Linked DNA regions of Homo sapiens: region 1 is linked to region 2. Evidence: fine-mapped expression QTL. A gene starts in region 2. The other region holds a variant in brackets. All regions are shown on one strand. Distances are from middle to middle.

What was found.
Region 1: its variant is fine-mapped to the expression of PVALEF in prefrontal cortex (GTEx, PIP 0.99). The same link has a PIP of 0.9 or more in cerebellum.

Annotation. Positions count from the first base shown.
Region 1 is chr17:81,188,479-81,193,833 of GRCh38, reverse strand. It overlaps CEP131 (centrosomal protein 131), which reads left to right. Exons shown (of 26, transcript NM_014984.4): 19 at 991-1,098; 20 at 1,241-1,358; 21 at 1,442-1,516; 22 at 2,499-2,641; 23 at 2,750-2,927; 24 at 3,032-3,195; 25 at 3,859-3,919; 26 at 3,991-4,238. The coding sequence ends at 4,065. Among named protein-coding and RNA genes, the nearest start is that of AATK, 25 kb to the right of the region's middle. RefSeq lists an enhancer at 198-915. The variant G/A (reference allele first, on the strand shown) is at 3,146.
Region 2 is chr17:81,162,335-81,167,689 of GRCh38, reverse strand. PVALEF (parvalbumin like EF-hand containing) reads right to left here and starts at 2,183. Exons shown (of 7, transcript NM_001354639.2): 1 at 1,943-2,183; 2 at 846-1,013. It overlaps AATK (apoptosis associated tyrosine kinase), which reads left to right and starts at 1,469. Exons shown (of 14, transcript NM_001080395.3): 1 at 1,469-1,752. The coding sequence starts at 1,698. RefSeq lists enhancers at 1,928-2,671, 2,672-3,415.

The sequences.
Region 1 (5,355 bases), 26 kb before region 2:
GGCGAGGGTCTTAGTGCAGCATGCAGGGAGGACGCAGGGCCCTTGGCCCTGGAGTGGCCCTTGGGGGCCCAGCCTCAGCCGGGCCAGTGTCCTCGGGCTTGTGTCTGCAGTTCATGCCCGCCGAGGTCTGCAGGTTCTGCATGGGTGCACGGGTGTTTTCCCAGGGTCAGGGCTGGGAACCCCCACCAGACATCCACTCTTTCACAACTGGCCCCAGAGCAGCAACCCGTGGATAGGCGGCCTCGAGGCCCCTCCAGCTCTGACCTTGGGGCCCAGGGACGGTCTCTCTCATTCACTCCCTTGGCCTGGGGTCTGAGGGGTGACTGCTGCTCTTGCGTCCTGAGCCCTGGGGGCTGGGGACGTGCCCAGTGGTGGTCAGGATCTGCGGGCCACAGGGGGCAGTGGCAGCCCCTCCTGCACTGTCTGCGCCACCAGGACAGCCTGGAAGCCACCCTCTCCTATCCACCCTGTTGCCTGTCGTGGCTGGTCCTCCCCAGATGCAGCTTGGCTGGTCCCCCAGTCTCTCCTCGAAGGTGGGGTCAGGACGAGGCCCTGGCGCGAGCTTGCTCAGGTCACGGAGCCAGGCACCTGGCACCCTCAGGCCGGAGGCAGGGGAGGTGGATAAGGCCCCACGAGGCACCTGCCTCCCGCCCTCCATGCCCGTGGGGCAATGCTGAACAGGGTGAGGCCGGCACACGGGCTGAGGGAAAAGGGGGCCTGGACGCGGCTCCACAGCCACTTCCCAAAGTGCCACGAGGGCCTGGAGCTCAGGGAATTGCTGCGCTTGGCTGATGGGCAAGTTCCTCGTGGCCTTGCCTGCCCCCGGGCGGTGGCTTTGAGGGGCCTTGACTGCCGAGGGGGAGGGGCAGGGCCCCGGAGGGCTGCTCTCCAGCTGTGAGTCAGGCCTGTGGTCGGCCCGTGCCCCTGCGGTGGGTGGGTCCTGGGACCGCCCGTCCCGGCCCCCGAGAGCCAGTCCTGACCGTCCCGCAGGTTCCAGCAGCACCTGGAGCAGGAGCAGTGGGCGCTGCAGCAGCAACGGCAGCGGCTGTACAGTGAGGTGGCTGAGGAGAGGGAGCGGCTGGGCCAGCAGGCAGCCAGGTGCCGCCCGGGGGCACCACGCCCTCTCCCAGGGACCCCTCGCTGGCTGACCCCTCCCCCCCGCCCCCTCACCCGCTGACCTCTCCCATCCCTGACTCCTTACTCGATGACCCCTCACCTGCTGACTCCTCCCTGGCCGCAGGCAGCGGGCGGAGCTGGAAGAGCTGAGGCAGCAGCTGGAGGAGAGCAGCTCTGCACTGACCCGAGCCCTGAGGGCTGAGTTTGAGAAGGGCAGGGAGGAGCAGGAGCGCCGGCACCAGGTCTACCACCGGAGGGCTGTGCTGGGCCTGGCCAGGGGGCTGCACGGGGTGGGACTGACTGGCCTCTTATGTCCGCCCCCCAGATGGAGCTGAATACCCTGAAGCAGCAGCTGGAGCTGGAGAGGCAGGCGTGGGAGGCCGGCCGCACCAGGAAGGAGGTGGGGGCCTGGGCACCCAGGTGGGCAGGGGTTGGGGGCTGCCCTGCGTGGGCAGGAGTTGGGGGCTGCCCCAGGTGGGTTTTGCTGCTGCTGTGGCATCCTGGGGGCTCGTTTCTGGGAGTCACATCTGGCTGCTTGGGGTTGTTGTCTGAACTGACGCTGAGTGTGTTGCTTTCAGCCCATCTTTTGCGTGGGCTCTGGAAGGATCAAGGGTGCCTGGAGCGCATCCTCTGTGGTCCGAGAACAGGCGTTGCCCCTCTCGCTAGGGGCTGCTACACCCCTGCGCCCCACGACCAGCCCACTGACACTCAGATGTACCGAGAGGGACACGCACAACAGGGGCTCCCCCCTTAGCCTCTGGGGCCTTCTGTGGGGGGTGGACTCTGCCACGGTGACAGTCCCACACACATTCTCACCACCCATGCCCGCCGCGAGGCTACAGTCCAGGCTGACCGTGCCCGTCACCTGGTTTCACACCCTGGTGGGCTGGGATGTCACCGAGCAGCCAGGCAGGCTTTGGCAGTGGATGCCTCTGGGCCCAGTAGCATGCTCCCGACGTAGCCCTGTGGGGCCCAGGGCTGGACAGATGAAACTCTGGGAGTTTTCAGAGGCTTCCAGGAGGCTGCCAGCTTAGGCTCTGAATGCCTGGGCTTGGGGGCCCAGGCCCCGCCCTCAGCAACACGCAAGTCCAACTTTCCCATCCCATCTGGTAGCAGAAGGTGGCCTCAGGTTGTCATGGGCTGTGGGTCTCTGAGGGAGGGGACCGTGGGCTGTGCATCATGACGATCTCTGGTACGCCTATGCCCACACTGGGTCCTGACAACAGGACGTAGCGCACCCCTGGACAGGGGTCTGGAGAGGGGGAAGGCCCCTTGCTCCCCTGTGGCTCAGAGCCTGGAGCCCCCCAGGACCCCCTGAGGCTGGCCCTGGCCCCGCGGGCCGGCTCCGGGTGGCAACCCCCAGGCAGCGCATGTCCCCCCAGGAGGCGTGGCTGCTGAACCGGGAACAGGAGCTGAGGGAAGAAATCCGGAAAGGCCGGGACAAGGAGATTGAGCTGGTCATTCACCGGCTGGAGGCCGACATGGCGCTGGCCAAGGAGGAGAGTGAGAAGGCTGCCGAGAGCCGGTAAGGACCCGCCATGGCTGGGTCACCAGCTGGGGAGGCCCACGAGCTGAGGCGCAAGGACCCGTGTGTGACTGGGCTGGAGTGACCCTGCCCTCCCCCCACCTCCAGCATCAAGCGCTTACGGGACAAGTACGAGGCCGAGCTCTCCGAGCTGGAGCAGTCGGAGCGGAAGCTTCAGGAGCGGTGCTCGGAGCTGAAGGGCCAGCTTGGGGAGGCCGAGGGCGAGAATCTGCGTCTGCAGGGCCTTGTGCGGCAGAAGGAGCGGGCGCTGGAGGATGCGCAGGCGGTGAGTGGGCGGGTGTCAGGTGGGCAGTGGGCACCCACAGGCCCCTCCTGCATGCACGCAGCCAGTCGCTGGCAGCCGGCTCACTGCCTTCTGTGCCCACCCAGGTGAACGAGCAGCTTTCTAGCGAGCGCAGCAACCTGGCCCAGGTGATCCGCCAGGAGTTCGAGGACCGGCTGGCAGCCTCTGAGGAGGAGACGCGGCAGGCCAAGGCCGAGCTG[G/A]CCACGCTGCAGGCCCGCCAGCAGCTGGAGCTGGAGGAGGTGCACCGGAGGTGGGCGGCGGGGGCTGCAGGGCTGGAGACGGAGGCGGGGCAGGGGAGCGGGCAGGACCTCTGCAGCTCCAAGCCCCAGGAGGCTGTGGCTGAGGAAGGCCAGGAGATGCAGAGACAGGGCCCTGTAGACAGAGGCTGGTGTGGGTTCCATGTTTGGGGCCCAGGAGACCTAGATCTGTTTTCCTCCCTGGTGCTTAGTCTAGGGTGTCGGCCATCCCTGTTGGGGCACCCGAGTGGGTCGGGTCTGGGCCTGGCGAGTTCTCCAGGGAGTCAGCTCCCGGGGCCCTGGGCTGGGTGGACAGGCGCTGAAAGAGCTGGGGCACTGTAAGGTTCCCAGCGAGCTCCCTCCACGGGGGTCCTGCATCCTTCCTGTGCCATCTGCTGCCACAGGCTGAGAGGTGGGTGTGGGCGAGGTGTCCCACCCCATCTGGGTACCAGGCCTCCCCAGGTGTGGCCAGGGTCATACTCCAGTGGCCTGTGTTGGGTCCTGACTCACAGCAGGTGGGTTGCCTGGACAGCTGTCTGGGCCAGCCACAGGAGTCGTGGTCAGCAGGGCTGGGACCAGGCTGACCAGGCGGCTGCCCCGTGCACCCTGTGCACTGCAGGCCACTCTGGGGACATGGGGCGGGGGCCACACTGAAGCCTACCATGTACTACCCACAGGGTGAAGACAGCCCTCGCGAGGAAGGAGGAGGCCGTGAGCAGCCTCCGGACACAACATGAGGTGAGTCCCTGTGGCCAGCCCTGCTGGACCTCGGGGCTGGGAGCAGGCCTGACCCTGTGGGTGTGCTGCAGGCTGCGGTGAAGCGGGCCGACCACCTGGAGGAGCTGCTGGAGCAGCACAGGAGGCCCACGCCAAGTACCAAGTGACCAGGGATGCCGGGAACACTGTCGAAGAACGGAAGGCAGAGGACAGAGGCTGGACGTGGGCCCAGAGGCCCACAGGGACGCCCACCTGCCCCCCACAGAGGCTGGTGGTTGAGATGCCCACGGCTAAGCACCTGTGGCTGCATTTTAACAGTAAAGGAGGCCGTTGTTTTCAGCGCCTTGAGTGACTGCCTTGTCTTCTCTCCTGGGCTAGAGGCTGCCCAAGACCCCCAGAGCAGCCAGGCGTGGGTTTGGCTCTCTTCCTCCCACTCCCCTCCGCAGCCTGAGCAGGCTGACCAGGAAATCACGAAGCTTGGCCATCAGCCCCCCAGCTAGCAGCCCTCAACACTCAGCCAGCAGCCCCCAGCACTCAGCCAGCAGCCCCCCTGCACTCAGCCCTCAGCTCCCCAGCATTCAACCCAACCCCCAAGTTCCTGTTCCCTGCCTTGCCCTGGACCCTGGAAGTCCCAAGCACAGGGAATTCCCTACCCCGTTCCTGGCCAGGCGCAGGAGGAACTCAGCAGAACTCACCCCCTGGGAGGAGCTCCGAGGGCCCCGCCGTGGCCCTGCAGGTGCTGGAAGCCCATGGCTGCCAGCGTGCTCCTATGGCTGGAGAGACTCCAGAGGGACAGGAAGCCCTACCCTCCCCGCTGTCAAGGTGTGACAGTCTGGAGCTCTCAAGAAATGGGGATGGACAGGGCCCACCCATGAGGATGGGGGCACTGGGGAAGGTCCCAGGCAGGAGAGGGTACCACTGGCCCAGAGCATCTCTTCACACCCAGCCTGGTTCTCAGCCCAGGTCAGCTTGGCCTGGTCAGTTCAGAACCTGCCCCAAATCCTCAGGGGGGCAGCCCTCCCTCCACCTCCGTCTACACTGACCAGGAAGTGAGTGTTGGATGCCATCTCACTGGGATGGGAGGTCCAAAGCCGCGCCTGAACGCTTGGTGGCAGACAAGGGTCTCCAAGCAGGCCGCACTATCCTGGGACCGGGCTTTGGGGTCGCTCAGGCTGCCACACCACAGTGTCCCGGCGTCTGCACCGGGTAGACCCATCGCCCCCGAGCCTGTCTTCCTACCTGCAGCATGGCTAGGACCTCCCTGGCCGCAGCAGCTGCCTGGGGTCCTGGGAAGCCCCCTGTGGAACAGAGGTGCTGCTGGCTACCCAGGCCTGCTCCAACACCCTGCCTGAGGCTTGCTTTCCCCCAGGAGGGGCTGGCCAGGCTTAGGTCCTCGTGCCCAGCGCCATCCTGCTGGCCAAGTCACTGCCCTGGACACAAGGCATGTCCTGGTCCTT
Region 2 (5,355 bases):
TACAGCCAGGGACCCCTAAGGTCTGAGGGCACAGGGTGGAGGCCCCTTGCTTTGCCTGTTAGGAGGAAACTTCCTACATGAGGGACCCCCTTAGGAAAAGAAGGGTGGGTCCTGGTGCCCATCTGCCCCGTGGCCCAAGCATCCTGTCCTGGTCTCTGCAGGTCCCTCTGCCGGGAACAGGCTCCTTTCTCTCCCTAAAGTCCTAAGAGCCCTGTTGGAGTGGGCGCCTCTCACCTGCTCCACAGCCCCCAACCCCAACTGGGCCTTGCCAAGGGGCTTAGCCATCTGGTCCCAGAATGAGTGAGTGAATGAATGAGTGAGTGAATGAATGAGTGAGTGAATGAATGAGTGGATGAGGGTGCATCAAACTCAACTGCAAGTCTCCAGGACACTTTTTTTGAGACAAGATCTTGTTGTCACCCGGGCTGGAGTGCAGTGGTGCCATCTTGGCTCACTGCGGCCTCTAACTCCCAGGCTCAAGTGATCCTCCCACCTCAGCCTCCCAAGTAGCTGAGACTACAGGTGAGCGCCACCATGCCTGGCTCATTTTTCTAATTTTTGTAGAGAAAGTGTCTTGCTATGTTGCCCAGGCTGGTCTGGAACCCCTGAGCACAAGCCACCCGCCTGCCCTGGCCTCCCAAAGTGCTGGGATTACAGGCATGAGCCACTGGGACCAGCTTCCACTGAACTTTAACTCTCCCGACTCCCACGGGGGCAGGCTGGGGGGACCCTGCCCCGCCCCAACCCTGCAAGGTGGCACTTTGGGCGGGGATGGGGGATCCTGGGAGAAACATAGGGGAAGGGATGGCCCCTCAGCGCCCAGGCCAACCTGCTGCCCTAAGCACCTGGTACAGTCCACGGCAGGTGGAGACTCAGCCAGGTTCTTCCTTCATGGCTGTCGCAGCACGGTACAGGAGCAGGCCTGTGTGCAAAGCCAGCCACCCCCACTCCACCAGCACAGGTGCCACCCAAAGGGCATGGGGTGGGGGGGCGGCTGCCAGCCGCCTCGAAACCTGCAAGTGAGGCGAGGGCCCCTGAGCACCAAGACCCGCCCTGGGTGTGCTCCCGGGTTCCCCCACCTGTCTCCCTGAACCTTTCCACCTAGGAGTACCCCCTCCCCCACCCCGGCGTTCCCTCCGTACCCACTCACGACTTACCATTCACGACTTCCGTTTCCCCCCCCCCCGCCAGCCTCCGTGCCCCCCTCAGCCCCAGGCCGCCGTGCTTCCCGCTCCGGACCATCCCCCCACTCCGTGCCATCCCCGCTCCGTGCACGGCCCCCCGTCCCCCCTCCTCCATGCCTCCCCTCCGTGTCCCCCCTCCAAGCCCCCTTCTGTGTCCCCCACTCCGTGCTCCCCTCTGTCTCCCCCTCCGTGTCCCCCTCTCCGTGCTCCCCCCATGCCACCCCGGCCGCGGAGGGCCCCCCCCTCCCCCGCGCCGCTCCGCGCGCGCTCCCGCCCGCGTTTTCGGACTGCACCAGCGGAGCCCCGCGGCGCCAGGGCCGGGCGGAGCGCCTCGTCTGTCGCCGCCGCCCCCACCGGTGCGGGCTCTGCGGCTGCGGCGGGGGGCGCGGGGCGCGGGGGCCGGCGCGCTCCGCACCTGCGGCGGCCGCTGGGTGATGCGGCGGCTCGGGCCGGGGCCGCGGGCGTCCTGAGCGCAGCGCCCTCCCGGGATGCCCGCCGGCCGCTGGCCCGGCCATGTCGTCGTCCTTCTTCAACCCCAGCTTCGCCTTCAGCTCGCACTTCGACCCCGGTGAGTCCCTGGCGGCCCGGCCTGCGCGCCGCTGCCTCCCTCCGCTGCGGACGTGATGCCCCTGGGCCCCACGGCTCCCGGTTTGCATGGAAATTAACCCTTTCCCCGCCCCGAGCCCAGCAGCAGAAGCAGCCGGACCCCCTGGCGGCCCCAGATCTCGGAGGGGCAGGCCCTGGGCCCCAGCACAAACCGGCCTCCGCCTGTGGGCTGGCGTCCCCCGCGTGGTCGTGACTCCGTGGCTGCCTCCAGGGCACAGGTAACTGGGGCACGGAGGGCCTGCGTGGGCCCCTGGTGTCCAGGAGAGTTGGTCTCAGACTAAGGGCCCTTGGGGGTGTGGGGGGTGTCAGCCAGCTGGGGTTCAGGCTTTCCATGGCCTCTCCTGGGTCCGGGGCCCTGGCGTGGGAGGCTTCTTCCCAGGCTGGGAGCGATTCTCAGAGCCCTGCCCAGCCACCAGCAGCCGGCGGGGGATGTGGGGGGAGCAGGGGCCAGTCCACATTACAGAGCCCAGTGGGCAGAGGCTCAGAAGAGAGGGGCCTTGGTGGGTGCCCAGATCCCCTGACAGTGGGGGCCCGAGGTGACGCTGTCAAGCTGGCTGCAGGGGACCTGAGGCCAGGCCTCTTACCCCGTATGGCCAGTGCACCGGGCAGGGCGAGATTACCCATGGCTGCCTGGCCTCCTGGCTGTGGTGGACAGCTGGGATAGGCAGAGGGGGCTGGGGACAGCTGGAAGCCCCATCTGTCACCAGGAAGCAGTGGGCTTTCTAAAACCTCTGCTTCTCCAGATCCGGCCCCTGCTTGGCCTGAGTGGGAGATAATCCCCCTGCCCTGTGCCATCCATGGCCCCAGGGCCAAGTCCCACCCACACGTCACTGGGGCTCTGGCACCAGGCTGAGCCAGCCCAAACAAAGCCTGTTTGCATGTGACGTGATCTCCTGTGTCTCCTTCCCTGGAGCAGGGCCCAGTGCACGCAGCCTGGCAGGGAGGCACGGGGGTCCCCGGGGCAGATCTCGGTCTGAAGGCATTTGCTCCCTGGAGGAAGGGAGCTGGTGGGAGGTCTGTCTGCTGGGCTTAGGGCTGTGGGTGTCACTTGCTCAGAAATGACTTCCTGTAGTGACCCCTGGGGCTCGGAAGTCCCTGTGGGGTGGGCAGGTGAAGGCTCAGAGCCCAACAGCCACGGCAACAGCTGTAATGTCTCCCCGGCCCAAGGGCAGGGGGTGGAGGAGGCTTGGGGCAGGTCCTCATCACATCTCCATGCCAGGCGTGGCCCACGGTGCTTGGTCCTTTCTGCCCCCAGAACAGAGAGGACCCTCGGCCCATACCCTGCCTCGGGGCCCAGCCTTGTCCTTGGCCATGAGAGGCCCTTTCCCCCGCCTTCGAGCAGCACCGGCTCTGCCCTTCTCTGGGTAAACAGCTGTGATCTGAATAATTCTAATGTGTCCGTTTAATGACTTAGAGGAAAAGAAGTTGTTGGAGGCAAGGGGCGTCTCTCCTCTGCAAGATGCTGGGCCAGAGCTGCAGGCACCTGCTGGGCTCTGGGGCCCACCTACCAGGAGGGGCTGCCCAAGGTGCTGGTGCTGGTGAGGAAGGAGACCCTCCTTCGGATTAAGGGGCTGGGTCTAGGCTCTGCACCAGCCCCCATGAGAGGGTTAGGGAGGAGAGAGGGGTCTCCTGCCCTCCCGCTAAACTTAGCCCAGCCTTCCAAGCCTGGCTGTCCTGTGCTGCAGTCCCTCTGCCTGGCCTTGCCTCTGTGAACCTCGGTTTTCCCATCTATGACATGGGCCGACAGTACCTGTGGCAGGCCCGGGTGGGCTCAGTGCTTGGTGAGCACTTGGCTGTCTGTGCTGGAGTGGTGGTGCTGGGACAGAGACCCCCAGGGCCCAAGCTTCCTACAGCATGTGGCTGGCTCCTTGCCATCCCCGAATTGGAGCGAGCTGGTTCCTTCTGAGGCTGCTTGTGTCTGTGGGGGGGCACCCAGAGGGGAGGGGCCCACGCTTGTGGCTCTGGCAGTTGGCTTGTGTGTCACTCAGCATCTGGGGCAGTGCTAGCACCTGACATGGGGGTCTCACCTCAGTTGCCAGGCCCTGCCCCGCTGCCGGGCCGGCTCCTTGTTCATCGCAGGAACTGGTGCCAGTCTCCATAGAGGTGACGGCAGTTGTGGTGGTACAGGGGGCAGAGACGCCCGATAGTGCAGGGCCTGAGAGTGGAGGCTGTGGGCACAGACTGTGGGCTGCCTGGGCCCCTGACCTTCCGCACCAGGCAGATGCGGGCAGGGCAGGGGGCACCCGGCCCAGGAGCCTGCTTGAGTGCCAGGAAGAGCCGCCTCCTCTGGAGCCCAGCTCTTCCCCCATCTCCCTGACACTCGGGAGCGTGGCTGGGGGATTTCTTGGCAGCTGCAGCCTTCCAGCCTCTGTGCTGTGTGGCCTCGGACTACTCACCCAGCCTCTCTGAGATCCGTTCTGCACATGTGAAATCTTGCTCTGGGGAGACTAGTGTGGGCATGGCGGCCAGGAAAAGCAGGGTGATGGGGGTGACACATGGGCAGGATGGCCGGGTCCAGGCTGGCAGGAAGGGGGTGGCATGGCCTTGAGCGAGCAGAGGTCACCCCTTCTACCTGAGTGCCCCAAGGGAGGGGGCTGGCCTTGTTGCTCACCCTCCCCAGCCTTCACCTTCCCTGGTGCGGCCTCAGGGCGTCATGATTTCTAGTCGTCCTGAGCCCTGGGGCCTGGAGCTGTCCTAGGCTGGAAGTGGGCATGGGGACACCGCCTCGCTCCGGCTTCTGGAGAGGCGCGCTCAGCCTGAGGGTGGGGGTCAAATGCTCTGCACAGTTAGGAGCAGGGGTTTGCCCTGGGGCCACCTCTGGTTTGCTGAGGGGCCCTTCTGTGACTGGCTCTCCATGCCTGTTTTGTCATCTGTAAGGTGGGAATGGCTGTGATGGCCAGGTCTGAAGGGACAGCAGTGGTGCACTGAGCCAAGGGTGGGTACCTGGGCAGTGCCTACCATGGCTGATCCCTGACGCAGAGGTGTCACTGTTGACCAGTGGGCAGGGCTTGGAGTTTGTGGAAGTTCTCGGAACACGTGGCAGCCTGGATTTGCCACCCCCCAACCCCCGCCTCTCCCCTGTCCCTCAGCTCACGCCCTGTCTCCTGCCCAAGGTCTCTCCCTGTGTCTGACCTGAACCAGGCGCCATGGGGGGTTCCTGGGAGAAGTGCCTGTGCCTGGCCACGGTGCTCGCTCTATCAGCATTCATGTGAACCGGACACCTGGCACAGGGCTGGGCAGGCTGGGCCTCAGGATGAGCCTATTGATGGGGAGAGGGCAGAGGAGGCAGCGAGCCCCGGGCCAGGCATGGCCTCAGTGGCAGGGGCAGGGCTGGACTCAGGGGCTCAAGGGGCTGAGCAGGAGGCCATGGGCCTGGGTGGTCCCCGGGAGTCCTCCCCTTGGAAGGTGCCCCACAGCTGACACTGCCCGGGCACCAGGTGTGGAGTCTGTTTGAAGGCAGCTGCTGCTTCAGTCTCCCAGACCACTCAGGCTCAGGCAGCAAGCACCTGCCCTGGGAGGAGTTACCTGTCCTCCTCTCGCCCCCGGGGTCTCAGAGGATGCCCCA